7 separate regions of the Homo sapiens genome follow, and all the other regions are reported to be linked to region 7. Evidence: microRNA targets listed by miRTarBase, many of them from high-throughput screens and not tested one by one. Region 7 holds a microRNA gene; each other region holds the end of a gene's coding sequence.
Evidence for each region. The annotated mature microRNA hsa-miR-4735-5p reads CCUAAUUUGAACACCUUCGGUA and lies in region 7 at 2,782-2,803, opposite strand. An mRNA with a match to its seed (bases 2 to 7 or 8) in the 3' UTR can be bound and repressed. Matches are read on the target gene's strand: a 7mer-m8 pairs with bases 2 to 8, a 7mer-A1 pairs with bases 2 to 7 and ends in A, and an 8mer does both.

Region 1 (4,309 bases), not on the chromosome of region 7:
CCTTACAACATATAGGCATGTTCTAGGCCTCATATGATACCGTGTCTAGAAACATCCCATCTGGGGCCTTCTGTACATCCATGGTCACTTCTGTAAGGTGTGAATATTTGAGTCATACGGAGCTGAGAGATTCTGAGTAAAGTGGTAGGCCCACTTTAGCTTCTCTCACTGCTCAGTGGCCCTGGAGCAGGATAGATTGGGCTGGCCTACTCCATGCATCCCCAAGGAGTGCTCTGAGGTTGTGCAGCGCTCAGTTACCTATTAATCTTATTCAACAAATTCTTACTAACTGCTACCAATGAGGAAGGCCTTTGGTGAGCTGAGCATACATTGATGAAATACAGCAGCCATAGAGATCTATCTGGGGCATTAAGGAGATGCTTTAACTTCTTTTATTTATTCAGCAAATATTGATTAATTTCTAACTCTTAAACCTTTGTACTAGTGGCTAAGGATGCAATGGTGATAGGATGAATACAGTCTCTGCTTTCATGGATCTTACATTCTAGAAGGGAATATAGATTTAAAACAAGTGAATACACAAGTAAATCATGACAGATGCTAAAAGTTCTGTGAAAGTAACAAAATACTAAATTGGGAAGTAAGGAGATGAGTGGGAAACCCATTTTAGATAGAGTGATCAGGGAAGGCTTCATTGAGAAGGTCCTGTTTAAGCTGAGATGTGAGGATGACAGGGAGATCATCAGATAAAGAATAAAGAGAGAATATTCTAAACATAGGAAATAGCATGTGCAAAGGTCCTGAGGCAGGAAAGTTTAGTGTCACAGTGAGAACCATCCCTATGGGAACATTCCTTGATTCTCTCCTTTCCACTTGTGCCACAGAGGCTACCTTTTAGAAAGGGAACAGGCATTTCAGTTTTTCTGTATGTGACAAATATTTTTTCTCATTTCTCTCTTCCAGAAATGGTTTAAGCAGCGCCTGGCAAAGTGGCGGCGCTCAGAAGGCCTGCCCTCAGAGTGCAGATCCGTCACAGACTAAGGAGATGGCAGGCATTGACAGCTTCACTCCATGAAGGCCATCTCTGTTTCTCTCCTCCGCTTAACCAAGCTGTTGTGGTTTTTCAGCATAGTGTTGTATGTTCCATTGCTAGCTGTCCTGCTGTTTAACACAGTGTTGTATTTTTTTTCTAAATGTACATAATTAGAAAAGAAAATAACAATAGGAAGCTATGTGTATCTTCTGTGTAAAGCAGTGGCTTCACTGGAAAAATGGTGTGGCTAGCATTTCCCTTTGAGTCATGATGACAGATGGTGTGAAAACCATCTAAGTTTGCTTTTGACCATCACCTCCCAGTAGCAATTTGCTTTCATAATCCATTTAGCAATCCAGGCCTCTGTTGAAAAGATAATATGAGGGAGAAGGGAACACATTTCCTTCTGAACTTACTTCCCTAAGTCACTTTCCTTATGTATCATCTAATACAATGATGGTTGAGTGAAAATACAGAAGGGGTGTTTGAGTATTCAGATTTCATAAAACACTTCCTTGGAATATAGCTGCATTAACTTGGAAAGAAGCCTGTTGGGCCAGAAGACAGAAACTCCAACTGGCAAAAAAGCAAGCATCTAAGAAAAAAAACCACCAAAGTTCTTGAATTTACTATATTTAAATGCATTGGTTAAGTTTATTTTGCTAAATAAAGTGAACTGCTTTTTGTCTCTAAAATGATATTCTAAATAAAACCTTAACTTTTTGTTGAAGATGCACTGAGTGAGTTCTCTGCAGGTTTTTAACGAAATAAGAAACATATCAAAGAGAAACAAAATAATAGCTCCTATGTGGTAGGAGCTGACTGACCAGGAGAGCTGCCATTTTCTAAATCCTTGCTACTCAAAGTGTGTTCCAGGACCAGCCTCATCAGCATTAGCTTCAACCTGGTGAGAAATGCAGAATCTCAAACCCCGTTCCAGACCCAGTGAATCAGAACCTGCATTTTTAAGAAGGCCCTCAAGCGGTTTATATGCACGTGGAAGTTGGAGCAGCACTGTTCTAACAAACTCTACACTCAATTTGCATTCATTTACTATCATAGCACACTAGATGTCTGCTATGGCCTGAATGTGTCCCATCCCCCCCGCCCACACCCCGGCCCCCAACAAAATTCATATGTTGAAACTTAATCCCTAAGGTGGTGATATTAGGAGGTGGGGCTTTTGGGAGGTGACCAGGTCATGAGGGCTCCACCCTCATGAATGGGATTACTGCCTTATAAAAGAGGCCTGAGCAAGCTTGTTTGCCATTCTGTCATGTGAGGATACATAGGAAGCACCTGGGAGGAATGGACCCTCACCAGATTGAGGGCTCACCATAGTCTGCTGGTGCCTTGATCTTGGAGTTACCAGCCTCCAGAACTGCGAGCAATAAATTTATGTTGTTTACAAATTACCCAATCTAAGATATTTTGTTATAGCAGCCAAACAGAGTAAGACACCATTTTAATAGTCTATCAGTTAAGACTGTGTTTGATTGCATGGAAGAGTGACTTGATTACAATGGATTAAGCAAATAGGCTTGTTTCTTTGTTTTCTTTTCTTTTTCTTTTTCTTTTTCTTTTTTCTTTTTTTGAAACAGAGTCTCACTCTGTTGCCCAGGCTGGAGTGCAGTGGTATGATCTTGGTTCACTGCAACCTCTGCCTCTCAGGTTCAAGCGATTCTCCTGATTTAGCCTCCTGAGTAGCTGGGCTTATAGGTATGCACCAACACACCCAGCTAATTTTTGTATTTTTAGTACAGACAATGTTTCGCCATGTTGGCCAGGCTGGTCTCAAACTCCTGGCCTCAAGTGATCCACCCGCCTCAGCCTCCCCAAGTGCTGGGATTACAGGTGTGAGCCACCAGCCTGGCTGTTTCTTTGTTTTCTTGATTGTGTTTAAGTAAGACATCACCAGGTAGGTAATCCAGGGCTGTTAGAGTAGCTCCCTAATGTTGTCAAGGAGCTGGGGTCATTCCATCTTCCCATTTTACTATCTGTAGTACACAGCTTTTGTATTCATGGATACTTGGACACTGCATCTGCCTTTCAAACAAAATGAAGAGAAAGAGGGAGGGAAAGCATAGGGCAAATGCCAGCTAAGACTTTCCTCTCTAAAAAGATTTCCTGGAAGCCCCCACCTAACAACTTCCACCTACATCACATTGGCCAAAGTGAGTCACATGGCCACTCCTAGCTGCAAGGGAGTCTGGGAATTGGGGCACTTGTAAATGAGCATAGTGCTGCCTTGAGCAAAATTAGGGTTCTGTTCGTAAGGAAGAAGGGAAAGATGGATATTGGAAAGGCTGATAACTACACCTGCTAATCCAGCCTGGGATGACACAGGTATACACTTCTGAACTCTTACCTCTAGTTCAGGAACAGTCTTTCTGGTTCTCTAAAATTAAGAAACCAAAAGTGGAAACACTAACAATTATTTATTTAGAATACAGATGTTTACAAGATCCTATTAAACATCCCTGGGCAAGCTTCCTCTTCCTGTATCTTAAAACTTTTCTTCTGACAACAAATACACAGTGCACCAGGGTCTGAGCAAAACAGACTCATATCTAGCATCCTCTCCTGCAACCTAAGTAGTGGGGATCTAAATTGTGGACAAAGCAGACTGAGTATGGTGATTGGTCCATGTCAGGCAATGAGAGGAATACTAAACCAGGTCTAAGATCCAGGTCAGAAGTCTTTCCAACACACTAGAGAGATGATTCAAGAACAATCCAGAGCAACAGCCAGGCACGGTGGCTCACACTTGTAATCCTAGCACTTTGGGAGGCTGAGGCAGGCAGATCACTTGAGCCCAGGAGTTCAAGGCCAGCCTGGACAACATGGTGAAACCCTGTCTCCATTAAAAATACAAAAATTAGTGGAGACTGGTGGCATGCACCTGTAGTCCAACCACATGTGAGGCTGAGGTGGGAGGATTGCTTGAGCCTGGGAGGCAGAGGCTGCAGTGAGCTGAGATCATGCTGCTGCACTCCAGCCTGGATGACAGATTGAGACCCTGTTAAAAAAAAAAAAAAAAAAAAAAAGAACAATCCAGGACAAAACCAGCTGGGCAGAGAGTGTGCCTTTAACTTGGGCCCAGAAGCCCCATTTATGGTAAAAGAATCACTTCCTCTGCCCAATAGTCTAGAGTCCTTGAATGGCATGTGATGGGAGGGAATGAGGGTTCAGTGTCCTTTTAAATGCAAGTATGTTACCAGTACTAATCTCCTTGAGTTTGCTTTTTCAACTGTGAAACAGGGATAGCAACATTCTACTAAATTTTTAAAAAGCACTTTGTAAATAGTCATAATA
Region 2 (4,309 bases), not on the chromosome of region 7:
TTATTTTTGAGTTTCCTTTTTAAAACAATGTTCTGGACTTCATATGGCACCTGAGCTTGCCTTTCTTCCCCTGGTTGACTCACGCCTCCCTCCTGTCTGTCTTCATGTGTGTGACTCTGGGTCACAGATTTTCCTCCTAATCTTTATGTGTGTTTGTGTGTATGACAGTCTCACTCTGTCACACAGGCTGGAGAGCAGTGGCGCAATCTTGGCTCACTGCAACCTCCGCCTCCCAGGTTCAAACCATTCTCCTGTCTCAGCCTCCCGAGTAGCTGAGATTACAGGCATGCACCACCACAACTGGCTGATTTTTGTATTTTTAGTAGAGACGGGGTTTCACCATGTTGGCCAGGCTGGTCTCAAACCCCTGACCTCAGGTGATCCACCCACCACGGCCTCCCAAAGTGCTGGGATTACAGGCATGAGCCACTGCACCCAGTCCTAACCTTTACCTGTCAACCGGCAATTCTATACAGCTTACTGTCGTTAGGGACATATTTAGTTTTGTTTCCACCATCTTAATTTGCCCAGTTTGTTTCTGATTTTTTTTTCTTTTTTGAGAGAGGGTCTCACTCTTTTGCCCAGGCTGGAGTGTAGTGGTATGACTACAGCTCACTGCAGTCTCGAGCTCCCAGGCTCAGGTGATCCTCCCACCTCAGCCTCCTGGGTGGCTGGAACTATAGGCTTACTTACTGTATTTTTTGTAGAGACAGGTTCTCCCTATGTTGCCCAGGCTGGTTTCGAACTCCTGGGCTTAAGCGATCCACCCACCTTGGCCTCCAAAGTGCTGGGATTACAGGTGTGAGCCACAGCGCTCAGGCCCAGCCTGATTTCGTTCTTATTTTTTAATTGACAGAAGTTTGTGTTCAGTTCATTTATTTATTTTATGGGCTCTCACTGTGTTGTCCAGTCTGGAGTGCAGCGGCACAATCGTAGCTCACTGCTGCCTCAAACTCCTGGTCTGAGGATCCAAGCCGAGATCCTCCTGCCTCAGTCTCCCAAGCAGCTGGGACTACATTTTAAATCACAGTGTTTTATTCTTTTTATTGGATTAGAGATGTATAGACTGGTTACACTCTTTTAGTAATTAACATTAAATTACACTATGCACATTTAACTTATCAAAGTCAAATTAAACACTATCTTACACCCTCTTCCCAACAACCGGAGGGTCTTAGAACATTTCTGTCCCTTCTAATTTACATGCTATTGTTGTCTAGTATTTTAGTTGACACTATTCTTTTATATATACATATGTATTCATATTTATAATTTTATTTGCTTGCCATTCCATCTTATATCTAAGACCATCACTCGGCTCATTTTCCTTTATTTATTTATTTTTTTAAGATGGAGTTTTGCTCTTTTTGCCCAGGCTGGAGTGCAATGGCGTGATCTCGGCTCACTGCATCTTCTGCCTCCCAGGTTCAAGGGATTCTCCTGCCTCAGCTGCCCGAGTAGCTGGGATTACAGGTGTGGGCCACCATGCCCAGCTAATTTTGTATTTTTAGTAGAAATGGGGTTTTGCCATGTTGGCCAGGGTGGTCTCAAACTCCTGACCTCAGGTGATCCACTGCCTCAGCCTCCCAAAGTGCTGGAATTACAGGCGTGAGCCACCGTGCCCAGCCCTATGTTGCCTAGGCTGGTCTTGAACTCCTAGGCTCAAGTGATCCTCCCCCTTAGGCCTCCCAAAGTGTTGGGATTATAGGCATGAACCACTGCACCTGGCCTGTTTTTCATTTCCAAAAGTTCTTTAAGGAGTCCTGCCTATTCATGCGTGACAGTATGTACCCTACAGCTTTCTCATCACTGACTGCGCGACTTCTTTGAACACCTCACACATAACTATCCTCTCACCTGTATGATGACAGTTTCAGGATCTGCGTTTCTTTGTGGCTGACAGCGGCTGCCTGCTGTTTCTGTTGGCCCTCAGTCAGCTGACTCTCCTTGTGTGCTTGGGGATCTTTGCAAGCTGAATGCCTGACTTACGAGCAGGAATGAGGCTAAGCCAGGTAAGCTTCCTTCAGGGAGCAGGTGCTTTGACCGCTACTGGTACCTGAGGATCTTGGCTCAGCATGGGAGACACAGGCTCATCTTCCCACCTCACCACCGGCCCAGGGGTCAGGAGCTTAATTAACGGTGGGGCCACCAAATCCATTCTGAGACCACCCCTGCCCCTACAGGCTGCACAACCCTAAGCTCATGCATTTTAACAAAATCGGTGCCAAGAGCCCTCAAAGCGACTGTCTTGGAAGCGGCAGCCAGCTCAGGACCCAGAATTCTTCCCAATTAGTCCTTACCTGGGCAGAGAACTGCAGGAGGTGGTCACAAGCCACACCCAGACCAGGATGGGCGAATCCTGCAACCGCACCCCAGGGGCTCACGGCCAGTAGGCGGCTCACATTTCCCTGTCATCCCAAGAAACTCAAAGCCCACCTCGCTTAATTCATGATGACAGAGCTTTACTATACGCCCCCAAAAACGCTCCCCAAAGAGACACTTCTACTTTTCTATCTAGAAAATAACATTTTAAAAAATGAAAATATTTTACAGGAAATAACATTTGTACATACTCATAACAGTCTCAAAGAGAAAACGATTCCTCTACCCACAGAACGCTTCTGAAATCACATGTGTGTAAGCCTTTCCCTCCACACCAACCAGCTCTCCAACTCCCTCTCAGACACCAACGCGATGTCCTACAATTTAACTCGATTCTGTCACCAATTGCCCGGAGCTAGTGCAGAACCCACAGGGTAAGGGGTCAGTCCCACAAGACCACCCCGACTTCAGATGCCAAGTGCAGACGGTGGGCCCCGGGGACCCCACGACCCCCTTCTCAGGTTCCAATTTTTTTTTTGAGATGGGTCTCTCTGTCGCCCAGGCTAAAGTACAGTGCCCAGATCTCCGCTCACTGCAACCTCCGCCTCCCAGGTTCAAGTGATTCTCCTGCCCCAGGCTCCCAAGTAGCTGAGATTACAGGCGCACGCCACCACGCCCAATTAATTTTTTGTATTTTTAGTCGAGATGGGGGTTTTGCCATGTTGGCCAGGATGGTCTTGATCTCTTGACCGTGTGATCCGCCCGCCTCGGCCTCCCAAAGTGCTAGGATTACAGGCGGGAGCCACCGCACCCGGCCAAGTTCCATAATTTTCTAAGCACACAGAAGTCGGGACCATATGAACCGGCTGTGAAAAGGCGTTGAAATACATGGATGAACCACCGACCCGCAAGGTACGGGGGAGGACGCGAGGCTTCCATGCCCTGTCTGGGCGCCCCCTTCCTAACTGCCCCCCCACCCCGCCTTCACCAACCCGAAGCCCGAGGCCCTCATCTCATGCAGGGTTTTGATGGAGGCCTGGTTGCGGAGGAATGACCGATTCAATCACCGGCCACTGCCCCGCAGCAGCTGACCGTGGGAGGCGGGGAGTCTCAGAGGCGGGCGGCCGGCCCGGGACAGACCCCTGAGACCTCCCCGCCTCTGGGAATCGCCTCCCGCGGGCAGCGCTCGCCTTCCCCGAGCCCTGTCTCTCCTGATTGCTCCCAAGCCAAGGCGGATGCAGGCCTGGCGAGGCTTTCGCAACCCGAGAACCAGGCGCGCAGCCGGCTGTTACTTCCTCACCGCGCACGGGGCGGACAGGAGCCTCCCCCGGCCTCGGCCTCGCGCCCACCAGGCCGCCGGCATCTCTTCCGCCGCAGCCCCGGCTCACTCGGCGCCATGCACCCGCCGGTGCTGGATGAGGTGGAAGCTCAGGCGGAAGGCGCGGCCGCACTCGGTGCAGCGGAACGGCTTCTCGCCCGTGTGGAGTCGCTGGTGCCGGAAGAAGCCCGACAGCGCCCGGAACGCGCGCCCGCAGTGGCCGCACTGGTGGGGCTTCTCCCCGGTGTGGATGCGGCGGTGCTCGCGGAGGAAGGAGCTGCGGCTGAAGGCGCGGCCGCAGTCCTGGCAGGCGAAGGGCCGCTCCCCCGTGTGCACGCGCTGGTGCTGGAGGAGGTTGGAGCTCTGGCTGAAGGCCTGGCCGCACTCCCGGCACTCGTACGGGTTCTCCCCGTGGTGGGTCCGCCGGTGCCGGACCACGTTCGAGCTGTGCAGGAAGCGCTTCCCGCACTCGCCGCACGCGTACAGCCTCTCCCCGGTGTGGGTGCGGCGGTGCTTGGCGGCGTCCGACCTCTGGCCGAAGGCCTTGCCGCAGTCGGCGCACGCGTAGGGCTTCTCGCCCGTGTGCACGCGCTGGTGCCGGAGGAGGTTGAAGCTCTGGCCGAAGGCCTTGCCGCACTCGGCGCACGCGTAGGGCCTCTCCCCGCTGTG
Region 3 (4,309 bases), not on the chromosome of region 7:
CTCCTCCCTCCCCAACATTCATTGTCTTTCTGCCCATCATCTCTGTCCGCCACCTGTTTCCCCACCTCCCTGTGTCTCTCTTTATCTGCATATTTTCTGTCTCCCCCATATCTCTGACCCTGTCTGTACGTCTGTCTGCCTGCACATCTCTTTCCCCCACGTGTCTGCGTCTGTGCCCCCGCACTTCTCTTCCCATTTCCCCACCCTTCTTTCCTTTCCCATGAATGTCTCTCTGGCCCTCACATCTGCTTTCCTGTCTCCTCATATCTCTCCCCACATCTCTCTCTGTTTCCTGACACGCCCTCCTGCCACCTTTGCCTCCCTGTTCCTCACCGTTATCTGTCTGTCTCTCCCGCAACTTGCTTCGTAATGTTCCCCATCTCTACCACTTCTTTGCCTTAGACAACAGCCCAGACCCTTGGACCTGAGGAATCCCAAACCTTCACCATCATCTGTGGAGGGCCTGACATAGCCATGGTCCTTGCCCAGGACCCTGCACCTGCCACAGTGGATGCCAAGCCGGAGCTCCTGGACACTCGGATCCCCAGTGCATAAGGATCAAGACAGACAATGTCGAGGGACAAAAGATAGAAGATGGAGGAGGAAAGACATTATACGTGGGCTTGGCCCAGCCCCACCGCCCACGCCTGGGTAGTAGCAGTGCCTCCCTCAAGGGCCTGGGTTCTACCACCCCACTCCTAGGGATCTCTTGAACCTTAGGGGTGACCTGGGCCCAAGTCTCTCATCAGCCCCCAATCCCCTGGGTACCAGGCTTCTGCCACCCCCGGCTCAGATCTTTGCAAATCAGTACGACAGCCTCAGAGCAGAGCAAGGGTTGTTTGGGAGAATCATACCTGGTTCTAAGGAGTCCCACGCTTTTTGCCAAGCCTGGTACTGAGTTCATGATACCATGGTGGACACAGCTGAGAAAATCCCTGCCCTCATGGTGCTCATTCTACTTGAGTAGACGATGAACTAGTAAACAAATAAACAAGAACACTGCAGACATGAGCGATGAGTGCTATAAAGACAACAAAAATTTGGTTTGGGCCTGGGGGAGGGCCCTCCAAGGCCATGTTTTAGCAGAAACCTGGGTGATCAGAAGGGGCTGGCCTGGAGCGCTACAGGCTCAGGTTCCAGAGGACGAACAACCCCTGCAGTGAGGGCCTGCTGTCTGGGATGTGTCAGGTCTGGGAGGCGGTGTTGCTATGGAGAAAACCATAGTAGGGAAGGGAGGAAGGGGTGCAGTTTTAGAGCAGAGAAGGTGAAAAGACACCAACAAGTAAGATCCTAAAACAGGGCAGAGAGGGAGCCACGTAGGGATTTGGAGGAAGAGCATTCCGGGCATCACAAAGAGCCGTTGCAGGCCAGGCACGGTGGCTCACGCCTGTCGTCCCAGCACTTTGGGAAGCTGAGGCAGGCAGATAACCTAAGGTCAGGAGTTTGAGACCAGCCTGGCCAACATGGCGAAACCCCGTCCCTACTAAAAATACAAAAATTAGCTGGGTGTGGTGGCACAGGCCTGTAATCCCAGCTACTCGGGAGGCTGAGGCAGGAGAATCACTTGAACCTGGAAGACAGAGGTTGCAGTGAGCAGAGATCATGCCACTCCACTCCAGCCTGGGGAACAGTGAGACTGCCATCTCAAAAAAAAAAAAAAAAAAGAGCCAGTGCAAAGGTCCTGGGGTAGGGAGAAGCAAGGAGGCCAGTGTGGCTGGGGTGGAGTGAACAAAAGAGGGTGAGAGGAGGTGAGTGCAGAGATGATGGGGCAGGTTCACATAGGCCCTTGTGGGCCATGGCTGAGAGCCTTGGCTTCTACCTGGAGTGAGGTGCAGCAGGCAGACCCCTCTGAGGGAAAGAGGGCTCCAAAGTGACAGGTGTTCATGGGTCCCTGTGGCTGCATGTTGGAGGAGGACGGGGACAGCAGGTAAGAGGCTGCTGCCGTAGTGCTGGTGGCAGAAGAAGAAGGATGGACCAAGATGAGGGCCCAGGGTAGCGGTGGGGAGAGTGAGATCCTGGAAATCTTTTGGAGATGGAGCTACTGGACCTGTGCATTAGAAGGATGAGGTGTTCAAGGCTGTCACCCAGCCCCATCCAGGCTGGGATGATTTGAGGCAGAGCAGGCTACAGCTCCAGGTGGGAAGCCAAGCCATGACAATGGAGCCAGGACCCTGGGCTGGCTTCAGGAGGCCTCCGTGGGGAAGATACAGGTTCTGAGAGAGTTGGAGGGGTCAATCGGCAGATCTGTTTCCCAGACACTGCTACAGGCATGTAGCATGGTGATTAAGAATCAAAGCTGGGCATGGTGACTCGTGCCTGTAATCTCAGCGCTTTGGGTGGCAGGGGCAGGAGGATCCCTTGAGGTCAGGAGTTCAAGACCAGCCTGGGCAACATGGCAAAACCCTGTCTCAAAAAAAATTCTCCAGACATGGTGGCATGCACGTGTGGTCTCGGCTACTCGGGAGGTTGAGGTGGGAGGATGGCTTGAGCCCAGAAGTTTGACGCTGCAGTGAGCCAAGATCACAACACTGCACAGTAGCCTGGGTGACAGAGTGAGACCCTGTCTAGGAAATAATAAAAATAAAAATCAGACTTTACAGACTGTCTGGTTTCAAATGTTCGCTCCATCACCTACTCATGTACTTTTGGGCAAGCTGCTTAACCTCTGGGCCCCAGTGTGTGAGCCTCGCATTATGATGGTAAGGATGAGATGATCATGATAGGAGTCTCTAGGAAATCACCCCTCTGAGGCACCCATTATGAATGGTGAGCTTGGAGAAGGGGTCCGGTCTAGGGTCCTAGAGAGAGGGTCCCCTAGAGGGTCCCCATCGTCACCACGCCCCAAGACCACTGCCCTCACCGGCCTGGTTTGCAGGCGTGGGGGAAGGGGATGGAGAAGATCTGTGTCCGCTCTCTCAGCCCTCTCTTTTGCCGTTGTATCTGCTCATCTCGCTCCTTTCCGTAGCCATCTCTTCCTCTCCCAGTGCCCGGAGGCTCTCCCCTTTCAGTCGCCGCCTCTGGCCCCTCCATCAATGCGAGCGCCTCCCGGTCCCTCCTCCTGGTCCCTCCTCCCCCGCCGCCGGTAGGGGGGCAGCAGGCGCATGCGCAGTCGCGCCCCTCCCTCTCCGCCCCCACCCCCTGTCGGCGTCTGGGCCTCGTCCCCTTCTCTCTGTCTCCCTTGCCTCCCCCATCACGTCCCCTGACACCGACACCCCATTGCTCCCACAGTCTCCCCAGTCTCCACTTTGGTCCCCAGCGCTGTCTGCCCGAGGTAAGATGGGGAGGGGGCGGCCCGCGGAGAAGGGGAGGGGCGAAGCATCCTGAATCCCGAGATAAACAAACCCGGGGAGGGGGCAGCCGCGACTGAGGGGCCTGACGCGGGAGGAGAAGAATGGGGGGCTGGGCCTGGGGGAGGTGGCAGGCGCTGGGCGCACACACCGGGGCCCTCTATGGGTAACGGGGGTCCCTATGGTTGCCCAAGATCCAGTTGCGCGGAGGCCACCCGGGGCCCTGGAAGCTCCTAGGGGCTTGGACCCTGGAGCCTGCCGGGCACCCTCTCCAGCTGACCTCTGCCTCCAGGATTTGCCTGAAGGCTGCCCCCAACTCTGCACCCGCCCCCCGAGGGCCACCGAGGACCATGACTAAGACAGATCCTGCCCCGATGGCCCCGCCACCCCGAGGAGAGGAGGAAGAAGAGGAGGAGGAGGATGAACCCGTCCCCGAGGCCCCCAGCCCCACCCAGGAGCGCCGGCAGAAGCCTGTTGTGCACCCCTCGGCACCTGCCCCCCTCCCTAAGGACTACGGTAACCACTGTCCCCACCCTGGAATCTGGCCTGGAGCGTTGGGTGGCCGGGGAGGGTGGGCTGTGCTCTGCTGGTGGTGATGGTGGGAGAATTCTGGGGAATTTGAAGGTGGTCCAGAGGAATCTTGGCTGCAGAGCACCCCTCGTTAATTCATTCATTCACCCATTGGAGAATGGAATTGTAATACTCCTAGTCTTTGACTCATGACACATCATTCCATCATTTAGTCATTCAACAATCATTTTTTGAAAGCGGCTGTGGACCTGGCTTTATGCTAGGGGCTGGGGCCACAGCAGGGGGCAAGAGAGACCCAGTCTTTGCCCTGAGACAACTCACAGGCCTCAGTAACAGCCACACAAATAGGTATTAAACCATAATGTAATTTTTCACATTTAGGTTTATATGCAAGAAAGAAAAATATAATGTAATATAAATATGTAATTACAAGACATTATGAAAATTGTATTTACCATAAACAAGCTGCTGCAAGAGTTTTTTAAGACATT
Region 4 (4,309 bases), not on the chromosome of region 7:
CTGAGAACTTCTCCCACTCTAATACTGGACAAAATAATTGTATGCTCCCCAGTATCTCTTCATGCAGGAATGGAAGGCCTGTGTAGACAAATGACTGTCCCATCCAATTTTAGCCAAATGTGATTATCATATGCCAAACACTGACAAGAACAATTTATCTTGAATTGAACAGTTTATCTTGGGCCTACTGCTTCATCATTAACTAGGAGTTAATCTGCTTTGTGATGACAGAAGTCTCTAAAATCCCCTTTTCAAGCACTATGGAATACTGATCTTACCTGGCTCATTTGCAGAGATCTCACACTTCACCAAACCAATTATGACCACACGAAACCTCCGAACCTAGTTGCCACTATTCTAGCCTAGTTGCCACTTTCCAGTTTTCTAAATCAAGCAAAGTTCTCAAATACCCGAGTGTCTCACTGGGATGTTCTATTGGATTTGCAATTGTGTTCAATTTGATTATTTGGAGTCAGTAGGTCACTTGAATACCGTCAACTATCCTATTAAAAGATGCTTGTTGCCACACTTTTTCCCCTTCTGCTTTTGTTTGGCAACTTAATGGTTCTCAACCTTGCTCCTGGTTGTTTATGGGGGTGTTTTATTTGCTGCCATCCCTCCCCCTTTTTCACTAGACTCTTGAATGATTTGGGAGTGCTAAGGTACCCAGTGCACTATTACTAAGCTCCCAATAAATATTTGCTAAGGATGATGATATTTACATTTTTAATGTCCTCAGAGTCTAGACTTTTGACTTGGACAATATTTTGAATTTTAGGGTTTAGATTAGGTTAGGTGTCTTAATGGGGTTCTTGTTCAGATTTCTTCATATTCCAAGTGTAGCAGAAAATATAGGTTACTATTTTCTTAAGCAACCACTAATGCTGAAAGAAAACGTCAGTACATGCATGCGTTTCACTGCAAATCCATCATTTAACATCAGCAACCCCCATTTTGAGGACTGATAGCTGATTTGAAGGAGCCCTTGAGAATTTGATTGCATAGCCCTTTCTAGGGCACCAGGTAAATCCTCCTAAACACAGCAGCTCCTGTTCTGTCCCTCTCCTGAATGGAAGCAGACTATCTGATTCCCATCCAGCCATTCTCAGGGAGTTCATTTTTCGGAGACTCAAATGAGTGGTGAAATAGGTAATCCCAGAGCATTTGGGGGAACAATTTGTGGGGGGGAGGAATATGAGTTTTCTTTCTTTAGAATGGAATTTCATCAGTGCCAGGCTAGCCCAGACCACAGGAAGTTTATGAAAGCCTTTGTGATGGCTGGCAGGCTGGGTGAGAGTCAAAGTGGAGGTCCACACTTGAGCAGCAGGACTCTGGCTGAGAAGGTGAGTCAGCTTCTAAGGCCTTTTGGACTTGACTAGCAAGGAAAGCTGAGAGTAGGGACTATCTCCACAGCTGTCAGTGTGTCTCATGATGACATCCCCAGAACTGTGTTCCTGAAGGTGATGCTATAAATGTCAGAGTCTAAAAGATCTTGCAACCATTTTATAAATCCACACAGGCATCTCAACCCTTAGAACTGAAGTCACTTGTTAATATGTAAATGGTGGCTTCTCAGTCTATCCCCAAATAAAAATAGATCTTATAAATGTTACCAAACAAACATTTAAAATAATCATAAAATAGTTTACATATTCATTATTTGGCTCAGAGTTCTGATGGTGAAGCAAAGTGCAGCTCTTTCCCTCCCTCGCATTCTAACTGGAACATGGTCCTTATCAGAGCGTCGACACCGCAGGAGCACTGAGGCTGACATAAAACCTGTCTGACACATTTTCTGATAAGGCAGGAATGTACTTTTCAGATCTCTTGAACATGGCCTTTCTCATCTGTCACCACTGTATTTCTTCACTTTGCTGGCCTGGGGAAAAATACTATATTCTAGGACTTTTTTCTTACAGGTTCATATCTCGTTGGCTGTTGGTTCAATGTCTTCCTCACCCAATGAGAAGGCCAAAACACTGATGAAAGGCCTTGCTCACTCAGTGCTCTCAGAAGGCAGAACTCATCAGCTGACTTGCCAGTCACCCTCGCCACAGACACTGGCTTAAAAGGTACAGAACAAGATTTCAAAACTGTTTGTAAGGCTTATTGGCGGGGAGGGAGGGAGGGAGAGGGAGGAGAGAGATAGAGAGACAGAGAGAGAGAGGAATATATATCTGTTGCAGGGCATCAGCTCCCAATTTCTCATTGGAGGAGGTAACTTCATCTCAGCCCCCACTAAGCCCAGAACCAGCCTTGGTTGTGACGCCTACCCAGAGGTACTATCAGCCCTTAGAGAAATTTCTGCAATGACTGAGCTTCTGGGCAGAATTCAGCCAGGCTTGAACCTGAGAAGAGATGCCCTGTGAAGTCCTTTTTTGGGCAGCACCAAAAATCTGCCAGCAGGTATATTAGTTCTCCTTTCTCTCGCCAGCTGGAAAGGAAAGAACCATTGAAAGTTATAAATAATTGAAAAGAAAATCAGATTGGTTTATTGCTTCTGCTTGTATACAGAGTTGAAGAGCAAGTTTGAGTGAGTGCCTGGAGTGGGCGGTGGATGAGGGGAATTATGGAAGGGAGAGGGGTTCCTCAAGTCTGTTATTTTTTAAGAGATGGGGTCTCGCTGTGTTGCCCAGGCTGGTCTTGAACTCCTGGGCTCAAGCAATCCACCCATCTCAGCCTCCCAAAGTGTTGGGATTACAGATGTGAGGCACCGCACCTGGCCTCAAATCTGTTCTTGAGCAGTAGAGAGGAAAGGAGAAAGGAAGGGACCCACTGGCTAAAATAAAATACATTTTTAAGAAGGGCAACTCTCAGTGAGTGGTTGTGATGGCCGCCCTGCTAGGGCTCTTCCCTCGCCTCCTGGAGCTCCTCCCTTCATCCTCTCCTGTATTGCTGGGCCCAGCCTAGTGTGGAAGAAGAGTAAAGCTGAGCTAGAATATTTTCTGCTGGTGCCCCACCAATTTAAACACATTAAATTTGGAGTGTAGTTCTGCCTTTGTATGAGGCTTTTATCTATGGTGACATCCTGTTCTTGGACTCTGATACTGTAAAGAAAGCAGATGCCTTCACTTCACAATTGCATACCTAAATGAAGATTTAGTACATTTCATTATGGTAATCCTCAGCCCAGCCTCCACCCTGCGTAGCTACTGGATTTATAAATTACAGTCCAGTACAGTGGCAGTTGGAGTCCCAAATTACTAAAAGCCAGAGCCAGGAAATCTTCTTGGATTGTGCCAGTCTCAGAGTTTGCTCTTGATTCTGATTTTCTATGCTGGTATATGGAAATCATCTTGGACAGGTCTCCAGGGATTCCAGGGAAAGAGCATGGGTAAGAGTGGCTAAGCTCACCCACTTGGATATCTAAGTGCACGTTAGTTTGCATTTCCAAATCCGCTTCTAATTTGGATAGTACATTTTACAAAGCTTATTAGAAAACTGGTCTAAAAGAACACGTTTGAAAGAGCATTAAAAAGCATAAAGAGGAGGCCTTCTAACCCCAATAGCAACATTTTGAGGTTTGACACAGCAAGAGATTTTTCTTTCTTTCAAAGAACATTACTTCTTTCTTTCAAAGGACAGCCAGCTCTCAAGAGTAATAGATAATAGCAATAGGGGAGCAATCTGACTCACATACAAGCTCCAAAGTTCATTGGAGGCAAGCATTCCATCCTCTCCCCTTACCTAACCTTCTCTCACTTGCTCACATAGACTTAACTAAATTTCATCTCTCGTTTTTCCCTTGACCACTCTTCTAGCAAATGGACTAATTAATAAGTGGTCAAAAGGCTGAAGAAAGAGAAGTCAGAGGCCACAATAGGCCCAAACTTGATAACGTGTGCCTGGAATATGGCAAGCTGGCCCTGTAATAACTTCCAGATGAATCACGGTTTTTTTCAGACACCAGCAGGTGAACCGAAATCATTCTATTTGCCTCCCACTTCTTCCATCCAGAATTACTGATCTCCGCTGAGGCTGGTAAAAACAGCTGGTTGAGGTCTCTAGTCTCTGGCCATTCTTAGGGATGGTCATTTTATTCCTAAGTGTAACCCCTTCTGGTGTGACCCATGTGTTTTCTGCCAACTCTCCACAAAGAAGGCCAGGGGAAACTGTCTGGGTGGGACTTCTGATAGGGGACAGCAGGACCTTGGAATCTGTCACTGTGGATGAAGGGGGCAGGTGGTCCATAATGGGGAAAGGAGGACTGAATAAGATTAGGCTCTGAGGTCTTCCTGGCCTTGACCTGTGGAAAGGCTTAGAACCCCCAGATGGTCGCTCTAGTTTTGAAGAAAGAAGGTTGTCCCCA
Region 5 (4,309 bases), not on the chromosome of region 7:
GGGGGAAGGGGGGAGATTAATTTTTACTCTAATTAACTATATTACAAATCATTGAAAAAGTTGGCTAAATCAGTGTAACTTTATTTTTCTCCATGTCCTGACCATTAGGTAGTTGAATTCAGTGAATTGGACAAACCCAGAGTCCGTTTTTTACGAAAAGTATTAAGTATCCTATTAATGGAAACAGAAGTTGAAGACCTCAGTTTAATTTTCACAAGGTATGTGCCCCACCCTTTCCGACGAGACATGGAAGAGAAATGAAGAGATTGTTTTCACTTGTGTTGATTTACAAACACAAGGTTGTACTATACGTGTAGCTTAATCTTTTCGGTTTTATTTTTAAGCTGGTATGCATTAGATCTGGGGAATAGAAACTTGTCTGCTAGCAAACTAACAATGATTGTTAATAATAAAATATGTTAAGAAGTTCTTAATTGAGAATTTTATTTTTAAAAGAAACTGGTTATGTCTCACTATGCGAGATACCCAGGATTGAGATCTAGGAGAGGCCAGCTCAGCCCTGACATGTGTTTATACGATTCCTTTCCAGAGTATCTGACAACCCAAAGCTGGGGGTGTTACGTGAGGGTTTGAAGCTTTTCATCAGCCACTTCTTGCTAAAGAACGCACAGGCCCACAGAAGCGCCGACGAAGCCAACGTGCTGAGAGAGAAAGCTGACCTTGCAACGAAGTGTCTGCAAGGAAAAGCTTCCCTGAGAATGTAGTCAGGGAAGGAAGGAGGGCAGGTGGCCCTTTGACTGTAAAATGTCCTTGGTAAACCCAAAGGCTTATTCTGTTGCCTGCGTGTGAATGTTTGGTAGAGCTATATCATTGTCTGTTAATGTATTATATTTTGAGATTTTTTTTGATCTAAGGTTTTATTGTTTGTATTTCAAGCCATTTTCAAATAACTATCTTGGGGGTGAGAGGAGAAGGAGGGAGGGAAAAGGGGTCAGGCACACTGGACAGGGTTCTCTAAGCAGTGAGGCTGGTGTGTATGATTGTCTTAAAATTTTTTAATAGATATGGCCGAGCGTGATGGCTCACCCCTGTAATCCCAGCACTTTGTGAGGCCAAGGTGGGCGGATCACTTGAGGCCAGGAATTTGAAACCAGCCTGGGCAAAACCCTGTCTCTACTAAAAATATAAAAATTAGCCAGGCATGATGGCACATGCTGGTAATAGCAGCTACTGAGGTGGCTGAGGCACAAGAATTGCTTGGACCCTGGAGGTAGAGGCTGCAGTGAGCCAAGATTGTACCACTGTACTCCAGCCTGGGCTGGACAGTGAGACTTTTGACAGTGAGACTGTCAAAAAAAAAAAAAAAATTAATAGATAAAACAGGCCACTAGAGGGTGCAGTTATAAAGAAATTGATGAGGTTTTTACCTTTTTAAAATATTGGTTAGAAGTTCAAAAACCATCCCTTAAAGGTGATTGTTTTTTTGAGACAGAGTCTTGCTCTGTCACCCAGAGTGGAGTGCAGTGTCCTGTAATCTCAGCTCACTGCAACCTCTACCTCCCGGGTTCAAGCGATTCTCCTGCCTCAGCCTCTTTAGCTGGGACTACAGGCGCACGCCACCACGCCCGGCTAATTTTTGTATTTTAGTAGAGATGGGTTTCACCATGTTGGCAAGGCTGGTCTTGAACTCCTGACCTCAGGTGATACACCCATCTCGGCCTCCCAAAGTGCTGGGATTACAGGCTTGAGCCACCACGCCCAGCTTAAATGTGATTCTTGATACTGTTTTAAGTATTTAGGTTGCAATTAACTTTGGCAAAGTCAGTCGACATAAGCCCTGTGGATATGGCCTTATGTACACTGTAATGCAGACAGGTGCTTTTCATCATTCATGTAACATTCTCACACAGTTGAGGATATTCATCTCCTCACCAATTCCAGATTGTAAATGTACCATCTTAAACAACTCTGAGGTCACCAAACAGTAGTTATTTGACTGTTAATAGGTGCTACTTGCTTGCAAGGATTTGGAGATGTAAACATGAAGAAAATATAGTTACTGCCTGCAAAGAATTAACATCCGTCTAGTGGGAGAAACAAACACACCCCACTCACTAAGTATGGAAAACTGATTCTGGGAGGAAGCAGAAATGTCCCTAGATAACAGCATGTATTGCAGATACCCAAATGTTTATTGTTTTCTCAGCCCTTCAATTTTGCTTTTCTCTCTCAAATGCTACAGACTCAATTTAAATCTTACCTTTGATTGTTGAAAAAAGTCACTAAGATGTGAATACAGAATAGACATTGAGAGGTTATATATGTCCAAAACTCATCTGTCCAGCAGTCACCGTCCTCTTCAGAGTGGTCACGTTGGGCAGATGGGCACAGGTGCTGGTGATGCCTCTCCTGGGCAAAACGCCCCATTTGTGGCACTTTCAGATACTATTTATTTACTTTTTAAGAGAGAGACAGGCTCACTCTGTCACCCAGGCCAGAGTGCAGTGGCACGATCATAGTTACCGCAGCATCAAATTCCTGGACTGAAGCGGTCCTTTTGCCTCAGCCTCGCGGATAGCTAGGACCACAAGCAGTAGAGACAAGATCTCCGTATGTTATACAGGCTGGCCTCAAGTGATCCTCTTACCTTGGCCTCCCAAACACCGGGATTATAGGCGTGAGCCCCCGTGCCTGGCCTCAAATTTTATTTTAGCTCGACCCTATGGCAGTTTGTGTTTGGAAATCGTGATGTGAAGTCATCAGTATCTGTGCATATCCCTAAACTAATGGTTTAAGCTTTGAAGCATGCGCAAGCAACATGAACAACTGAATACAGAAAGTAACTGAAAGCAGCACAGAGACTGTGTCGTCCCTACAGACTTCTAACCCTGCATTCAGCAACATCATTCGACCCGAAGCCAGATTCAAACCCTATGTCTTCTAGCAGGTTCTGAATTTAGAGGACAAATAAGGTGACAGGTACTAAGAGAAGAGTGAATTAAGTGAAAATCTTCCCTTTGTTAAGGAGCTTTTTAACAAGAGTGTCTTTGCTGGGTGGTGATTGGGATGTAACAGATCAGTTCTACTGGACTTGTAGCTTGATAGTGAAATAAGGAGCTTGGGCTAAGGTATAAATCAACACACTGCTTCCTTCCTCCAGAAGGTCTTACTGTGAAGGAAAAAATGTCAGTTGAACTAAATTGTGCTTCACGCCTCGGTAGATTTGCATTCTGATGCAAGCCCCCAACCTCACGGACCAAGAGGATCCCTGGCTGCCTGTGAATGGCCCACATTTGAGTGGTGCTAACTTGATGTGAGTAGGCATTAATTATGGGTGCGGCTACTAAGATGGGAAAAACTATCACGACAGTGGCACCACCTGATTTCATGATGTACCATATGCAGTAACCCATGTTTGAGGTACAGAATTGAAGCTGATTTTTCTGCAAAAGATGAATTTCTATAAACAATCCCATTTTTATATTTTATTATTAAAACAAAAATACCTCTCTTTGCTAGAGAGTTATATGTATGACTTAAATTATTAGCTATGGTTTGCATTTAGTACATGGCAGATTGCCTGTAAGTCTGTTCATTTTAACAACATACAGGGCTGGGCACGGTGGCTCACGCCTGTAATCCCAGCACTTTGGGAGGTTGCGGGTGGATCACTTGAGGTCAGGAGTTCGAGACCAGCCTGGCCAACATGGCAAAACCCCGTCTCTATGAAAAATATAAAAATTAGCTGGGCATGGTGGCAGGCACCTGTAATCCCAGCTACTCGGGAGGCTGAGGCAGGAGAATCGCTTGAACCTGGGAGGCGGATGTTGCAGTGAGCAGAGATCGTGCCATTGCACTCCAGCCTGGGAACAAGAGTGAAACTCTCAAAAGCAGAAACAAAAACCCAACATATATGGGCTGTTAGATAGTAATTGTAATTTCGTATAAATAGTAAATGAGTACATCTTGATTAAAAGCTATGAATTCAGAATTGCTTTTAAATATATAGGGGGTTTTTTGAAATTTATTACAGTGCAATTGAAAATACACTTAAAATACTGCAGGATGCTTAGTGCTCAGTGTTATGTATGAACTTGTGGACTTTACAATGCAGGTTGAGAACTGCTAATGTATAGAATGACTAAACAGCTGTCTTTCAGGGTATCATTTTTAAAGGTATAAGGAACAAACTTTAATGTATTGAAATGCATAAATAAAATTTATTTTTTATATTTTGTTTAGAGTAACAGTGAATGTTTATTTTGAAAGACCAGCTTGGCCGGGCACGGTGGCTCACACCTATAATGCCAGCACTTTGGGAGGCCGAGGCAGGTGGATCACCTGAGGT
Region 6 (4,309 bases), not on the chromosome of region 7:
TGACCTCGAGTGAAGGTGGCTGAGGCAGAACCCGAAGGACCTGATGGCTTAATGCTGTGTGCCAACCATGCCATGCTGGGAAGAGCATTGTTTCTTGAAGGGAGAGCTGGGTGGCTCAGCTCTGTGTCCACCACAGGGTGGGTGGGGGAGGGTTAGCAGGTGGCTGGCGGGAGGCAGGAAAATGTTCCCTGAAGGCAGCTGAGTGGGGCCTGTGGTCTTCAGGCATGTTGACAAGAACATCTGCTCTGTCGTGAAGGTGTATGAGAAAAGGACTCTGTGATCTCCTGAACCTAGGAAAAGCCACTAGCTGGGGAACTATTTCTAGGCCACTCCTAAGCATATGTAGGGCCTGCCTGACATCTGCCCTGCTCCTTAGCACTCAGCTTGTATTAGCCCATTTTGTATTATTATAAAGAAATACTTGAGGCTGGGTAATTGATAAAGAAAAGAGCTTTATTTTGGTTTATGGTTCTGCAGGTGGTACAGGAAGTGTGGGGCTGGCATCTGCTTCTGGTAAGGGCTTCAGGAAGCTTCCAATCATGGTGGAAGGCGAAGGGGGAGCAGGTGTGTCACATGGTGAGAGCGGGAGTGAGAGGGAGAGTTGGGGGAGGGACGTGCCACACTCTTTTAAACAACCACATCTTGAGTGAGCTCAGCGAGAACTCACTCATCACTTCCAGGAGGGCACCAAGTCATTCATGAGGCAACTTCCCCCATCACCCAATCACCTCCCATCAGGCCCCACCTCCAATGCTGGGGATCACATTTCAACATGAGATTTGGAGGGGACAAACATCCAAACCATATCACAGCTTACACTGTGGATGTGAACACAGCTGTACACATACACAAAATTTTATTGTAATTTATACTAAAAACCAATCTCCCTACAGCTCCTCGGGGGACAGCTCGCCGGTTTTCTCATTTGCTCCGTTCTGGGACTCGGACAAACGGGGCACAAGGCCTCTTTCTGCTGATACAGGTGGGTCCCAAGTCTGCATTTCCTGTCTGGACTCAGCATCACCAAGGGTTACATGATAGTCTTGAAGGAATGTTGCTCAGAATTTCAGGCGACTGGTCTGGAGGAGAGAAGGGGGCAAGTGCTTACCTTGAACCCGTGCAGGTGGACAGATGTGTGGTGGAGGCATTTGAGGGTTACCTCAGACCACATGCTGACCCACGCAGGGCCAAAGTCGCTCATTGTGTGGAGGCATTTTGCGGTGGAAACACACCTGGATGCAGGGAGAAGGGCTGGGGCCTGGCTCATGCATCAGAGGGTCTCTCTGGTAAGCCTTCTTCCTCCGTGGGACTCTGGAGGGTCTGGAGGCTGTGGCCTCTCTCCTGGTCTCTGGTCAGGTGGCCAGCTGGGAGGACAGCTGCAGTCAGGCCAGCAGGAGAGGGACTGTGACTGTGCAGGTGAGAAGGGTGGTCAGTCTTCACCCTCAAGACCAACTCAGAAGGCAGCCATTTCAAAGCGTCTCAGGCAGCCCAAGCTTGCTGGCCAGTCCACAAGCTTGGCCAGTCATCTTCACTGTCATGGTTGCCCTGGGGCAATGCCCGTAGCAGTCAAGAGACAAACCCAAAAGGGAACTAGGTACTCCACAAAATAAGGCTTTTCTGGGGTCCATTTTTGAATGGGAGTGAAGGAACCAGAATTGGGTAGCACAGGTGAAAGTCAGAGGCTGAAGGGGAGGGCAATAGGAGCCTCCTAATAGCAATGGGGCTCCTCTGATGGCTGCCATTGCTTTGAGGTCACCCTGACAGTCTTGCTGAACCTTTCTTCGATTTTGAGCTTAGCAAGCTCCTACTGGACCTTCTCTCCTTCACTGGGGCTCAGCTTGCAGGGGTTCTAGAAATATCTCCACAGATCGCTCTTCCTCCCTGGGCCTCAGTTTCCTCATCTGCACAGTGAGGCCTATTAAGCCAGGTGTTCTGACTTTATTTTTATTTATTTATTTTGAGACGGAGTCTCGCTGTGTCATCCAGGCTGGAGTACAGTGGCGTGATCTTGGCTGACTGCAAACTCTGCCTCCTGGGTTCAAGTGATTCTCCTGCCTCAGCCTCCTGAGTAGCTGGGATTACAGGTGCCCGCCACCACACCTGGCTAATTTTTGTATTTTTAGTAAGGATGGGGTTTCACCATGTTGGCCAGGCTGGTCTTGAACTACTGATGTCAAGTGATCCACCCACCTCAGCCTCCCAAAGTGCTGGGATTACAGGCGTGAGCCACCGGGCCTGGCCTGTTCTGACTTTAAAGGTAGGGATTCAGAGGCAGAAAAGAGGAGGTAGACTGAGAGGTTCCTGGGGTTAAAGGCTGGCAGGGAAGCTGGGCAAATGTACAGAAGAGCCCCCTGCTTATGTTTCAGGGGCCAGGGCAAGAGTGTACATGGAAGCCTACATACCATGTGGCTAAATATTTAAAAAGCAAACTAACAAACTGTTGAATAAAGTATGTTCTATTGGTTGACCTTGAAAAAAGTATTTTTCTGATGAGTGACCTGTAAGGCCAAGTTTGAATGAAAATTCCTAGACTCCTTAGAGTCCCAACTCGGAGCATGCGGTGTGGAGAGAGCTGGTCCAGGGCCTCAGCTGTGGCTACAACAAGAATGTTCTCCCACTCAAGATCTCCTGCTCTAGGGAGCGGGGCTGACCAGGGACCCCTGCTGCTGTGCTCTGAAATCTATCTTTGCTGTTTCCGCCAACCACTGAGTGCAGCAGGGATGCTAACGGGGTCTATTTGTGGGAGACACGGGGCTCTTCTGATGGCTGCCTTTGTCTTGAGGACACCCTGACAGCCTTGCTGAACCTTTCTTTGATTTTGAGCTTAGCAAGCTCCTGCCAGACATTCTCTCCTTCACCGGGGCTCAGCTTGCAGCTCGACTTACTGGTCCTCCCAATCTTCTCCGGCTCCCTCCTTCTTTCCTTACACACAATCATTTCCCCTAACAAATCTTTGTTCCATTCACTCTATCTTGACACATATTCTTGGAAGACTTGGGCTAACACATTGGTCCCCCGCCGGCCCCCCTTTATCTTCTTACCCCTGGCTTCTTCCCACACCACGAGAAGCCCCATGCGCAGGTGTATGGAGCCTCAGGTACCAGGCTCTAGGTGGTGGCAGGCATGTCCCCTTGGCCTGCAGTCTCCTCATCCCGCGATGGTGTGGGGAGTGACGCAGGGCCATAGGGAGCAGGAAGGGGGCCCCTCTTGTCCGAGTCTAAAGTGGTAGTGGCAGGGAGCCTGTCCTTCCCCTGCCTTCCCTCCACTCCAGCCTCCTGACCTGAGCAGCTCTTTCTCATGCTCCCCGCCTCTGTGCTTTTCCAGAACACACTTTGTAACCACCTGGGATGGAGGTGGTGAGCATGTGTCCCAAGACCCATGCTTGGGATATATGCTCAGTGGTGGCTCCATCTGTGTCTTCTTTCACCCTCAGGAGAGTCTGGTGGAGAACAGAGGAAACTGAGGCTCAAAGACATTGAGTGAGCGTCCACACCCAGGTCTTCTGATGCCCACCGCGGGCTTTGCCAGGACGTCCCAGCCAGCAGAGACAGCCACGTGGTATCTCACAACTCCCCTCTCAGTCCCTAAGAAATGAGTGTGCCTTTCTTCTCATCTTTAAAAAAGAGCTGCTTCTTTCTACCTTGCAGCAACCCGACTGGGAGAATGGAGAGCCAAGCGTGTTGTCCCCAAGGCCAGCTAGACACCAGCCCTTCAGAACTTATCGTTATATTTGCAATCTGGGTAACGATAGGCAAATCTGGAGTCACACGTTCTCAGGGGCCTCAAGATGTCTTTCAGCTGGCTGGCGGCCCCAAGGACTTCTGGGTCTGGGCGGATGCTGTCCCCACACTGAACAAGGATGGAGTCTATGTCGTCTTGCACTGGGGAGGGGAACCTCCCCTGGAGAAGTCGAGGCAGCAACTTCTGACACACCAGCACCAGGCTCTGCTTCTCAGAGATGCTTTCGCAGGAGGGCAGCTGGGCCTGGCAGCCGGAAACCAGGCAGCTAAAAATGTCTTTATTCTCTCCTGCCCTGTTGGCTTCTTGGCTGCCTAGAAAAGAAATGGGAAGTATTACACACCCTGCCACCAGTGCTCCTTGAGGGAGGGCACCACTAATTAGAATTCCTGGGTGGGGCCGGGCGCGGTGGCTCATGCCTGTAATCCCAGCACTTTGGGAGGCTGAGGCGGGCAGATCACTTGAGGTCAGGAGTCCGAGGCCAGCCTGGCCAATATGGTGAAACCCCGTCTCTACTAAAAATACAAAAATTAGCTGGGTGTGGTGGCATGCATCTGTAGTCCCAGCTACT
Region 7 (4,309 bases):
TAGTAGAGAAGGGGTTTCAACATGTTGGCCAGGCTGGTCTGGAACTCCTGACCTCATGTGATCCACCCACCTCTCCCTCCAAAAGTGCGGCGATTATGAGCATGAGCCACCACACTCCTCCCAGTTAAATTTTTAAAAAGACCTACACTAAAGTACAGCATCATGAAATATCAGAAAAGTGGTGATACAGCTTTCATTGGTGATACAGCTTTCATTGGCTGGAAGCAAGTCTCATTCGAATGTTCATGGTCCTCTCAATAGAAACATGGAAAGATAAAAGAATGGAAAAATGGCTTCCACATTCTGACAGAAAATAATTTTCCAACCTAGAAATGTTTCCATTCATGTGGAAAGGTAGAATAAAAAGATTTTCAGACATGCACAAGCTCAAAACTTTTCCTCCTGAAACCATTTCTAGGGAAGCTTCTGGAAAATGTGCTTCACCAATACAAAAGAATAAACAAATCCAGCAAATAGGACACTCAAGTAAAGAAAGTGAAGAGCATTCCTAAGATAATGGATTTATTATGAATGGAAGTCCCAGCTCCAGAAATACTAAATGGAAGAAATAATAGAATGGAAGCCCCAGCTCAACAGAGAAAAAAGTGATAAACAATCCCACAGAAATGTGGGTACAGAATGAAGCTTGAAGATGGTTCAGTGGGAGGGGAGGGAGTTCCTGAGTAACTCCACAGAAGAGAACCACGGAGGATCTGAGAGTGTTTCTTTCCACAGCATAACCTGGACCTTCCCCACAGGTACACTGTCTGATGTGTTTGATTACCCTGAGAAAGGCTTTATAGTTCTACCACAGTGCTTGGTGAAACACTATCAATAGGTAACTAGAAAACTTAGCAGACAACAAAATGAAAATGTGTATATACTTAGAAACAAAGACAGTTGAATAAGAAAATGATAATCATAATACTCATTACTCAGTTCTGAGCAAAACTGAAATAGTCATATAATATGCATACATGGTATTGCTCTAAACAAAAATAATTACTGTATTGGAAGAATGGGGAGTGAGATGTGTGTTGTGATGGTATAGTTAGACTGCTAAATCCTTATATTTCATAGTAGGAAGTCAATGAATACTCCCTCAAATTGAGAAACTGTGAAACTGACTATAGAGAATAAAAGCAGGGAAAAACACTCAAAAGGCTTCAAAGTGTTTCTTTCTGAAAAGTACATCATGGAAAAGCTGACAAGGTGAAGGCAGGGGCCAGATGGTTTTTGTTATTGTTGTTTTACTTGTTCTTGTTTTCTTGTAAGCCTTCTAATAATAGCTGATTTTTGAGCTATGTACAATCATTATTTTGGCAAGAACATTTTTTAAAGAACAGGTAATTTCTTCTCAAGAAATCATCTTGACTATAGCTGCTACAGCTATTTACAAAACGTACAGTTTTTTTTTCAGAAAATTAAACATTGAAATATTAGTATATATGTGATATAGTCATTCTTTTAGCATTTTTACCTTTCTGTACCACATAGGCTTAGAATAAGATCACATAAATGCTAATCTGTGGCAAGAAAATATGGGTCAGATTGTAGTGTTTCGCTTTTTTTATTGTCATAGAAAAATTATTCTTACATGATACTTGAGGAGTAGGAAATATTTATTCTTAGAAGTTAATTTTGTAACCTCCAAATTCCATATGCCTATAAATATCTAGATCTGGACCAGTTTAGTAAAAAAAGTTCTATTTTTATATATGTGAAATACACATGTATATTCCAAACTAAGCAAAAATAAAACATTAAATTTAATAAAGGGTTTTACTTGCTCTTTACTGAAAATGAATGCCACCGGGTGAATATTGCCCCATTTTTTTCTGTCCCTTATTCCCTGAGGCTATTCCAAAATTTCAATATAATGAAGTTAACACAATACAAAGTCCTCTCAGTGGCCGACTCACTCTAGAGACATTCCACAAGTATCCTAAGGAGATGGGGGAAAGATGGAGGGGAAACTGTTATTAGTAAGAACATATTTTCTTTCATTTATTTATAAAAACTTTCCAAAAAGAGAAAGAAATCCCACTCAAGCATAAATTAACTTCAGTTCATTTTAAAAGTATTTACTAAAAGCTGTCATAAAAATATATCAAATTCACTTTCTTCCATTACTTATGTTTTGAAAACTAAGTCTTTCATTTTGTTGTTCTCCTATTTAAATTATAGTAGATGTGTACAACATGAATAGACAGATGACAGCTGGATAATAGGCATCACAAATGCCTCTATGTTCACATTTCAGGAAAATTATGTCTTTCATAAGAAAATTCTGTGGGAGAACCAATAATACTGCCAGTTCTTCAGGTAGACTTTAAAAAGTCTTATCATATATTTCAAAACCAACATGTATGTATTTAATATTTACTTATCAACTTCTCTCCATATGCCAGTACAACGCCAACTTTTTTAGGAAAATCAACAAAGACCCTCATCTCCACCTTCCCTTCCTACATCTTAGTATCCCCTTCCAGCAAGCCTAATGGCCAAGAAAAACAGGGTTCAAGTTCCTGGCTCTGCCATTTTCTAGCTTTGTAATCACCAACGGATTACTTAACTTCTCTATGCCTGTTTCTTCAGCTGTACAATGGGGATAATATTATGCTTTCTCGTTGGGCATGTAAAGTACTTGGAAGAATGCTAGTAAAAAGTAATGTTATATGCATGTTCTCTTAAGGAGCTAAAGATCCATGAATAGATTTCAACTTGACATGCGCAAAAAATGCAATGTCTAATTTGAGCACCTTTGGTATTTTTGATGAATACCGAAGGTGTTCAAATTAGGCACTGCAATTTTATGCAAGCAGGGAAGATAAACTTGCAGAAGTGGAGCTGAGATTTTTAGAAGTTTGGAAGGGTTGGTTAGAATGATAGAGGGCAAGTTTTGTAGCTGCCTTATAAGGTCAAGTTCCCAATTTCTTCAGTCCTGGCCACTACCTTAGTGCCTCCACAAACACCCAAGATACAGCAGCATTGACAGCATTGACTAGGCTTGGTTCAAACACTGAGTCCTTTGAATTATTCTCTCACCACCAATTCATTTACATTTCAGTGATGCATCAGGCAAGGATACAGATGAACCATGTCACCTGCTTCAGCTTGTCCAAACTAAATAAAGTAGAACAAATAGAGTACAATAAAGGTTTGAAAAGCATAAAATACAGAAGATAATACAGATTGCATAGGATTATAAAATATAATTATACAGGATTATAAAATATAATTATACAGGATTATAAAATACAGAGATTTGCATAGCGAAAAAGCCTTCCTAAAATGCTGAGATAAAGATTATGTAAGTGATAACTGGTCAAAAAATAGGTGAATATCATGTGACATGTAGAGGTGGAGTGGGATGTCTTCAGAGGTTGTTATTCATTCCAGAGAGAGGAATTGTCCAATGGCAGCCAGAAGGAAGACCTGAGGCAGAAAAATTAAAACACCTCTCAAGAGTTCAGATGAGAAAGGCAGGCACATTAATTAGAAGCGTAATAATTAAAATGGACTCATGAGGACAACAATTTGAGCCATCTATGAATTGAATCAATGAGATCTGTAGTGAACCAAGCTTTAAAAAGAATTTAATAATCCAGCCTTGGGTGGCTGGTTGCATGTTGGTACCATATTTAAACACAAAAAATACCAGAGGGTAAATAGTTTCAAAGAGATGACAAAATTAATTTTGGACACTGTGGATTGAAATGTCTGCTGAACATGAAAAGACACCCAGTGGAAAGCAGTCTATATAGTTTTAGAGCTCTGCACAGAGAAGTAAGACAAATATCATGATTTGGAAATCATCAACATATAATTACATTTATTGAAGTTTAAACAAAGCAAACTAGAAATGAAAAGAGCAAAGAACCAAGGAAGAATCCTTGATAAAACATAATTTTTAGTGCTAAATAAAAGAAGGGAAGACTGTAAAGGAGAACTAGGATAAGATGAGTAGGACATAAAACAAAGAAGAATGATATCATAGAAATCAAGAGAAGGAAGTTTCAAGAAAGAGGAGGAGAATCAGAAAAAAAAAATTGTTCATTGGACCTGGCATGAAAAAGATCATCAGAAATTTTAAGAGAAACGTAAGTAGAGCCATAGGGCAGAAGAAAGAATGCACAAGATAGAAGAGTAAATAAGAGCCAGGAAAGAAAAGTTCAGGTTAAAAATGGGTGGAAAGCATGGAAATATATAGGGTACTGAAGGTCTTGATGATATGTAAAAATGAATCAGTTTGGTGTTAGTAAGGAAGTGTGAACACTGAAAGGACAAGTTAGAGTTACATGGTGGG

Region 1: miRTarBase lists HOPX as a target of hsa-miR-4735-5p. Seed matches in the 3' UTR shown: 7mer-A1 at 1,163-1,169.
Region 2: miRTarBase lists ZNF696 as a target of hsa-miR-4735-5p. Seed matches in the 3' UTR shown: 7mer-m8 at 1,494-1,500 and 8mer at 1,194-1,201.
Region 3: the mRNA of THAP8 is a reported target of hsa-miR-4735-5p. The part of its 3' UTR that is shown has no 7-base or 8-base seed match.
Region 4: miRTarBase lists ARHGAP31 as a target of hsa-miR-4735-5p. Seed matches in the 3' UTR shown: 8mer at 3,402-3,409.
Region 5: miRTarBase lists NOM1 as a target of hsa-miR-4735-5p. Seed matches in the 3' UTR shown: 7mer-m8 at 1,150-1,156 and 7mer-m8 at 3,700-3,706.
Region 6: the mRNA of DIPK2B is a reported target of hsa-miR-4735-5p. Seed matches in the 3' UTR shown: 7mer-m8 at 2,105-2,111.

The regions. Positions count from the first base shown.
Region 1 is chr4:56,645,413-56,649,721 of GRCh38, reverse strand. It overlaps HOPX (HOP homeobox), which reads left to right. Exons shown (of 4, transcript NM_032495.6): 4 at 925-1,724. The coding sequence ends at 1,002. Among named protein-coding and RNA genes, the nearest start is that of HOPX, 34 kb to the left of the region's middle.
Region 2 is chr8:143,296,198-143,300,506 of GRCh38, reverse strand. ZNF696 (zinc finger protein 696) reads right to left here. Exons shown (of 3, transcript NM_030895.3): 3 at 555-4,309. The coding sequence ends at 3,707. Among named protein-coding and RNA genes, the nearest start is that of ZNF696, 6.9 kb to the right of the region's middle.
Region 3 is chr19:36,031,686-36,035,994 of GRCh38, reverse strand. It overlaps THAP8 (THAP domain containing 8), which reads left to right. Exons shown (of 4, transcript NM_152658.3): 4 at 403-1,011. The coding sequence ends at 555. It overlaps CLIP3 (CAP-Gly domain containing linker protein 3), which reads left to right and starts at 3,122. Exons shown (of 14, transcript NM_015526.3): 1 at 3,122-3,271; 2 at 3,580-3,803. The coding sequence starts at 3,638. All of the region lies in intron 3 of LOC101927572 (a long non-coding RNA gene), which reads right to left. RefSeq lists a silencer at 223-396.
Region 4 is chr3:119,415,880-119,420,188 of GRCh38, reverse strand. It overlaps ARHGAP31 (Rho GTPase activating protein 31), which reads right to left. Exons shown (of 12, transcript NM_020754.4): 12 at 1-4,309. The coding sequence ends at 3,925. Among named protein-coding and RNA genes, the nearest start is that of TMEM39A, 46 kb to the left of the region's middle.
Region 5 is chr7:156,968,979-156,973,287 of GRCh38, forward strand. It overlaps NOM1 (nucleolar protein with MIF4G domain 1), which reads left to right. Exons shown (of 11, transcript NM_138400.2): 10 at 109-218; 11 at 551-4,198. The coding sequence ends at 725. Among named protein-coding and RNA genes, the nearest start is that of NOM1, 21 kb to the left of the region's middle.
Region 6 is chrX:45,147,941-45,152,249 of GRCh38, forward strand. DIPK2B (divergent protein kinase domain 2B) reads right to left here. Exons shown (of 5, transcript NM_176819.4): 5 at 433-4,052. The coding sequence ends at 3,712. Among named protein-coding and RNA genes, the nearest start is that of DIPK2B, 51 kb to the right of the region's middle.
Region 7 is chr1:196,579,672-196,583,980 of GRCh38, forward strand. MIR4735 (microRNA 4735) reads right to left here and starts at 2,810; the gene lies at 2,742-2,810. The region is part of intron 1 of KCNT2 (potassium sodium-activated channel subfamily T member 2); the gene reads right to left.